2 linked regions of the Homo sapiens genome follow. The protein of the gene in region 1 purifies or fractionates together with the protein of each later gene. This does not show direct contact. Each region holds a gene or a part of one and is shown in the gene's direction. Other genes may lie near its edges.

Region 1 (3,825 bases):
TAATTACTGATAGCCCATTATAACTGATTTTAAAATCCTTAAAAATCATTTCATTTTTCAGTTACTTATAAAACTTTTTCTTGATCTTTCAGACCTACTTTGAAGAAAAGTTGATCTGTCTCTGTATTACCATTTTCCAGGTTGTTTTACGAATACGTGTTGTAGTCATCCATTAAGCAATCCAGCCGAGCTTGAGGAAAGTGACGCCCTTGGAGTGAGGCGAGCAGCACAGAGACGGCTGAAAGCTGAGCTAGGAATTCCCTTGGAAGAGGTAACCAGCTCTCCTACACAACCATACAAGCTGAAACCTAAACATACTATAAAAAGGTTTTTAATAAAATTTTTAAATTCAAATGTAGTTCTCTGCTTGGTAACCTCCGGAGTTATGAGTTAGCCCCACAAACCATCTTGAATAAAGATTATTTAAATTTTAATTTCTTAATATCACTTGTCAAAACTTAGCTCAATACGGGGATGGATTGATCTGTTAAGCACTATATAAGGTTGAATATTTCTATAATTGATCAAATCTAAGATGAGTATTTTCAAGTGTTACAGCTCTTGTAGAATTTAACTGACAGGTTTTCCAGTTCTCACCTAAAACTCCCCACCTACAAAAAAGGTGAAGATTTTCTGATGGAAACTCTTAGGAATATGAACCATAAATCTCATTGGTTTAATTGAAATCATTTTTTTTCTTGGAATTGTCCCCCTTAAATAAGACCTGGATAAATAAAGTATTTCTTATCTATATTTTCCAAAAAGCAATTTTAAAATATGAAAAAGAAAAATGTCGGGCCGGTCGTGGTGGCTCACGCCTGTAATCCCAGCACTTTGGGAGGCTGAGGCAGGTGGATCACGAGGTCAGGAGTTCGAGACCAGCCTGACCAACATGGTGAAACTCCGTCTCTACTAAAAATACAAAAACTAGCTGGGCATGGTGGGGCGGCACGTCTGTAATCCCAGCTACTCAGGAGGCTGAGGCAGGAGAATCGCTTGAACCTGGGAGGCGGAGGTTGCAGTGAGCTGAGATCACACCATTGCACTCCAGCTTGGGTGACAGCAAGACTCCGTCTCACAAAAAAAAAAAAAAGAAGAAAAAGAAGAATGTCACATTTCTAGTTTGAGTGACTGCCCCTTTTTTTAACATTAAAAAAAAAAAAACTTATCTGATCGGGAAAAAAACGCAAACACTTGAAACTAATGATGTAATCATTTTTCCATATATAATATTAAGATTTCCATATACCATTGATAGGAGATTAATGCTTTAACCAAGTTCTAATCCTAAAACTATACTGCTGTTCGAGATATCGCTGTAATACAGTGAGCTAATTTTAGATTTTTTTTGTTACGGTGGCCGATGTTTTAATTACTTTTTTTTTTTTAATGTCTTAGGTTCCTCCAGAAGAAATTAATTATTTAACACGAATTCACTACAAAGCTCAGTCTGATGGTATCTGGGGTGAACATGAAATTGATTACATTTTGTTGGTGAGGAAGAATGTAACTTTGAATCCAGATCCCAATGAGATTAAAAGCTATTGTTATGTGTCAAAGGAAGAACTAAAAGAACTTCTGAAAAAAGCAGCCAGTGGTGAAATTAAGATAACGCCATGGTTTAAAATTATTGCAGCGACTTTTCTCTTTAAATGGTGGGATAACTTAAATCATTTGAATCAGTTTGTTGACCATGAGAAAATATACAGAATGTGAATATGTAGGTAAATGATTACAGAAAAATTTATCTGCTTAACAAACTTAGAATGACTTTTTCCTTTTAAATTTAGTTCTATCATTAATTTATCATTAAATTTAGTTCTATCATTTGGTACTATCATTAATGTATTATATACACTGATACTTTAAAACTTGTGTGGAAAAAACTAACTTATAATTTTGTATCACACACCCTGGATATGTGTTCTGTTTCTAAGCGACATTTGTGAGAGATTATTGTAAAATGAGAGCGAGCAAATAAAACTTAATTTAATCTTTGCAGATACATACTTATGGGAAATTTGAACAAATGAGTGAAACTCTGTTTTTAGTAGGCTGTGATAAACATTTCCGGAGCACTTGCAGAGGACTTGCTATTTGCCAGGTGCTTTATGTATCATTAAATTTTTCTCATAGTTCAGAAAAATGTGCAAAGGAAACTATTGTCTCGCTCCTTCAAAACAGTCTTAATTAACTTTCATATTAGCAGATTAAACTAGCAGAGCAGGTTCAAGGGAAATTAAATGATATGGACCCTAATTTGTATCATTCTGAGTTGATTGTGTGGTTTATTCATTCTGGAAACATGTTGATACTTACAGTCAGCCACTGCTTTTGATAAGTGATATTGATTAGGTTGAATCTTCTTGTAAATAGTATTTACCAGTTAGCAAAGTCTGTGTTTTCAGAATTACAGTGAGCACAGAGGTGTTCATAAAATGGGAATTGAGTCCCACTCGGTAAGAGTTGCTTAAACTTGACACTGTTGACATTTGGGCTGGATAAAACCCCTGTGGTGGGGTCTGTGCTGTGCATTGCAGGATGGTGAGCAGCGTCCCTCTCATGTGACACCCACAGTTATGCCGGATGTTGCCAGATGCCCCTAGGGGACAGAGTCAACCCCCAACTGAGGACCACTGTCCTACAGAGTCAGGAAATATTGTAGGGAGAAAAAAATAACAACAACAAAGGCCTGTGTTAATGTTAAATAGATGAGATTATGGAATGTGTATATTAATGTTAAAAATTGTACCTTGATCAATGTACTTTTTATAAACTTGCCATAGATATCTCAGATTTGAAACCTCAAGACAGATTTATTATTCTTAAATGCTGTATGATAATGAAGAAAAATAAAAATTTATTTCTTGCAAAGTTAAATGTTTGTTAAATTCAATAGAATGACTCATTTATGGTTAACTTTGGGCAATTTATAATTTCAGACAAGACTGTTTAGCAAGTATTTTATTGAAAAGTAAAAAAAATTGCAATTTAATACTGTGTTTAGTTTGTTAAAATTTTGATACACTAATAGGATATTGCCTGTATAGTTTCCGTTGCATTTATAATATTGTTTCTAATTTTTTTAGTTTTATTTTCTAGGAAGTTTTAGGCTGAAAGCCACATATAATTAGTTATGTGATAACTATGAGTTGCCATGGCTACTGAATTGGACATGGGACCCTTAGACTGCTACCCAGCACCTTGTTAAGTACTTAGCAAGAGTTAGATACTACTGTTGTAATATTACTAGGATGCCATCCAGAAAATGTAAGGAATGTCTTTTGACCTGATAAACTCCTTAGAACTCCTTCATCTTTTATAAAGAGGAGTATCCCTCTCCTAGATATAGCTGCTTCTGACCCCAAAGGCAGATGTGTTGGTTTTCAACTAGAAAGCTAAATGGTACCTATAAATTTTTTTTTTCTTAAACTGTTTTAAACTCTTAATCTTCAAAATATATACTTCTTTGATTCTGGTCAAACCATTGCCAACTCCTTTAAGGACAAAGTAGAGGTGGCCTTCTAATAATTGCTGATTCTGTTTCCCTACCTATATTATCAAGAGAACAAGACCAAAACAGAAAATGGTATAATAGGAAGGAAGGCACATTTTCTTCTTACTTGGCCCTGGCACCTGGGGACAAGTCCAGGTCGTACCCGCAGTGCATCCCTGTGGGAACTGCCCTCCACCTGCTCCCTGGGGACACGTCCAGGTCGTACCCGCAGTGCGTCCCTGTGGGAACTGCCCTCCACCTGCTCCCTGGGGACAAGTCCAGGTCGTACCCGCAGTGCGTCCCTGTGGGAACTGCCCTCCACCTGCTCC
Region 2 (3,825 bases), on another chromosome or scaffold:
GCGTGATTTCAGGTCACTGCAACCTCTGCCTCCCGGATTCAAGCAATTCTCCCTCCTCAGCCTCCTGAGTAGCTGGGACTACAGGCGCCTACCACCACACCTGGCTAATTTTTTGTATTTTTAGTAGAGACGGGATTTCACCATGTTGGCCAGGCTGGTCTCGAACCCCTGACCTCAGGTGATCTACCCACCTTGGCCTCCCAAAATGCTGGGATTACAGGCATGAGCCACCGTGCCTGGCCCCTATTCTTAACACTGTCTCCAAGAGGTTGATCTTATAACTCACCTCAGTAACCCATTATGGAGTCTTGCTGTTTCCAGTCTTGAGTTTTATACTTGATTGTTAGTACATGTTCATTCTTGTCCACTGTGGCTGTGAGAAGTAAAAAGTGGTCATGAAAAGTTTCATGTGATCTCCTGTAATCACACAGCATTATAGGTATGATTATCACACATTTGACTTCCCTGGGGTAAAGGCCAGTTTGATTCCCATCACTACAAGGGTCTCCAGGGAACAGCCATTGGCCTACTCATCCCAAACATTATTGATAGAACATTTCAATATCATAAAATAATCCACGTCACATTGTCCAAGAGTAGCGTACTGATTAGTCACAATTAAAATCGTGAAATGAAATCACACTGGACTAACAGCAAGGTTGTTTTTTGAAGAGATTAGCAACCTTTTGAAACACCTGTAACTAGAGATGCCAAATGAAATAAACAAGGCAGTCTGAAATCTTTCAGGATGCTTTAGTAACATATCTAGTTCTGACTGTCTTTGGGCTTAGCCAGACTTTTAGTAAACTGCAGAAATCCAGGTTGGGAAACAGGCAGCTCAGAGTTATTCTAAATAGCTACAGTTTGCCTGTACAGCTGACTTGGGAGGAGGGGAGAAGAAAGGGATTGCTAGAAAAGGGATTGATGTGAGTTTTGTATTTAATTTGGCTATGACTTGAGGAAATATACATCTCAGTCCAGGTGCAAATCATGTAACCTGGTATGATTACATGTGTTTAGGAATAATCAGAATAAAGCCTAGAAAAGAACAGGTTGGGAAGTTAGTTTTGGGTGGTAGAAGAATGGTGAGGCTGATTTTGTTAGTAGATTGCACATGGACAGATGAAGGTAAAGTACAGTGCCAGCTCCAGCTGGGCCTGGTGGAATCCAGTATGAGTGCTGTTTCAGATGGGACACCCCAACTGGGAGGGAGGTGGATCTAGAGAGGATGTCTGGCCCTGGCATCCCTTGAGTCTCTTGCATAGCTCAATTGTGTTGATGTTTAAGGAATAAGTAGGGAGATTTGTTTGTTTTTTAAATCTAGAACATAATTTCTTTAAGATCTTTCATTTCCACAAACCCAAGTTGGATTTACTGTATATGAGCTAAGGAAATTGGAGGTTGTCATCTTAAGGAGGCCCAGATACAGTTTTAGAAAGACCCTAGGGAGGAGGGATATCACAGGTCCTCCTCACAGACACCCATAGCCAGCTTGTCTGGTGTGCAGCAGCCACAGTTTGGCATCAACATCCTGAAATGAGGGTATTTAAGTGCCTGCATGTGCTACTGTGTCCTTTCATTATGCCCAGTCACCAGAGTTGGAATTACCCAAGGAATCGTGTGTGTTGTGGAGGCTGAGACATAAACACCATGGCTCTCCCCATTTCTTCAACTTCCTTGTAGTTCGGAGGAGGGAAAGCAGAGCCCTGGGCTCATCCATCCTCACTGCAGCCCCACCAGGAGATCCCATCAAGGCGGTCTTAGATTTCTAGGCTGAGGCAAGAAGGGGTTGGGCGATGAGCCCAGAGCCACACAGCCCAGCCCTGTTGTGGCCAGAGAGGGAAAGGGACTGACTTTGTCCTGCAAGTATGGAGACTGCTTTCTTCTTTCTGTTGTTTTCAGTGCAAGCTATCAGCTACCAAATGGCTGCCGTTTTGTTTTGTTTTGTTTTGTCCTTAGAGAAGCGCCCAGGGATCAGCTATCGGGAACAAGAAGGTATCACTGTTTTTTGGGGTATTTTTTAGATTGTCCAGTTTTGGTCATAGGTGGTTTGATTTCCTTTCACTGAATACAAAGCATGGATCTTGTCATCAAACCCAACCAAAGTCAATCTCAGTGTCATTCGCTATCTCTCTTCCCTCCTTACTGATCCCAGGAGAGAAGGTTAGGGTTGCACTAGTGATGGAACACCAGGATGATATAAAGCTTCCAACTTGGCTCAAGAAGAGTTCCAAACAAACAAGTATATCTGCCATTGCAGTGGCTCATGATATGTAAGTCTGGACTCTGTAGCTTCCAGTCCTCACTACCCTGGTCTTCCCCACCGTTCCTCTCTTTCCACAGGCCAAGAGATGCACAGTGATCGGTGGCTCTGGATTCCTGGGGCAGCACATGGTGGAGCAGTTGCTGGCAAGAGGATATGCTGTCAATGTATTTGATATCCAGCAAGGGTTTGATAATCCCCAGGTGCGGTTCTTTCTGGGTGACCTCTGCAGCCGACAGGTAATGGACCATGCAGCCTTGCTGATTTCCCACGAGCCCACGAAGGGAAACCACGATACTTCCCTTGCTCAGAAGCCAGCCAATTTGTTTGAAAAACAATTGTTTCATTGTGAAAATTTTCAAAGTTATAGGAAAGAACACCACATTCTTACTGCTTAGAATGAATAACCATCATCTCTGTCACAGATACTCAGCTGTGTCCTGGTAGCACAAAAGCAGCCATGGTCAGCACTTAAATGAACAAATGGCTGTGGCTGTATGCCAGTGAAACTTGACTTCAAAAGCCGTCCATGGGCTGTATTGTTCCAACTGCAAAACAAGTGTGTGCTGGGCCACAGGGTCTTGATTTTTTAATTGAGATATAATTCATGTACCACAAATTTCACATTTTTAAAGTGTGCAATTCAGTGATTTTCAGTACATCCACAAAGCTGTGCAACTGTCTCCCATGATCTAACTCCAGAATATTTGTATTACCCCAAAATGAAATCTTGTAGCCATCCCCTCTCTTCCCCTCCCAGCCCCTGGCCGCCACTCATCTACTTCCCATCTATGGATTGGCCTCTTCTGGACATTTCATATAAATGGAATCATGTAATATTTGTACCTCTGTGCCTGACTTTTTTCACTTAGCATGATGTTTTCAAGCTTCATCCATGTTGTACAGGTATGAATATCTTGAATTTTATTAGATGGTGCCAAATGGCTCAGCAAAGCTGCTATGTCAATTTTACCTCCATATCCACAATGTGGCACAAGCCCCATTGCTTCACATCTTTGCCAACACTGGGCATAACTAGACTTTTTGGTGTTGCCATTCTGAGAAGTATGAAGTGGTGCTTCACTGATGTTCAGAGTCACATGTCCTCCCTGACCAAGTAACCAGCCACTCTGCCACTGGGTGATCGGCTTTCAGGCTTCCTCCTGTGTGAAATGTTTGTCTGTGTCCTTTGCCCCTTTGTCTTTGGGGTTACCTTTGCTTCCTTGTTGATCTAGTTGGGATGCCAATCCTGTGCCCGTTGTACTTATTATGGATGGCTTCCCTCAGCCTGTCACTGGGCCCTTATTCTTGGCTTTGGTGTCATTCGCTATATGGTTTGTTGATGAAATATTAAGGCCATTGCTTCCGCTGCAAAGTTACGGTTGTTTTCTCTCCCGTGCTGCCCACACCTCCAGGCCTGGAGATGGGGTAGACATCTTTCATGCTCATCATTGCTGCCTCCGAACCGTTCTCCCTCATGCTGCTCTAAGCCTCTCCAGCTTTGAAGAGGATACCCTCAGACTGTACAAACCCCGACACCGTTCCCTCCTTGTGGTGGCCAC

Evidence for each region.
Region 2: the proteins of IDI1 (region 1) and NSDHL purify together in Homo sapiens (affinity purification with mass spectrometry; one large-scale study listed by BioGRID and IntAct). This does not show direct contact.

What each region holds. Positions count from the first base shown.
Region 1 is NC_000010.11:1,039,078-1,042,902, reverse strand, and holds the end of IDI1 (isopentenyl-diphosphate Delta-isomerase 1), read left to right. Parts: intron 1-140; coding exon 141-271; intron 272-1,398; coding exon 1,399-1,716; 3' UTR 1,717-3,484; downstream 3,485-3,825. UniProt on the Homo sapiens protein: Catalyzes the 1,3-allylic rearrangement of the homoallylic substrate isopentenyl (IPP) to its highly electrophilic allylic isomer, dimethylallyl diphosphate (DMAPP).
Region 2 is NC_000023.11:152,847,922-152,851,746, forward strand, and holds part of NSDHL (sterol-4-alpha-carboxylate 3-dehydrogenase, decarboxylating), read left to right. Parts: intron 1-2,343; coding exon 2,344-2,502; intron 2,503-3,825. UniProt on the Homo sapiens protein: Catalyzes the NAD(P)(+)-dependent oxidative decarboxylation of the C4 methyl groups of 4-alpha-carboxysterols in post-squalene cholesterol biosynthesis. Also plays a role in the regulation of the endocytic trafficking of EGFR.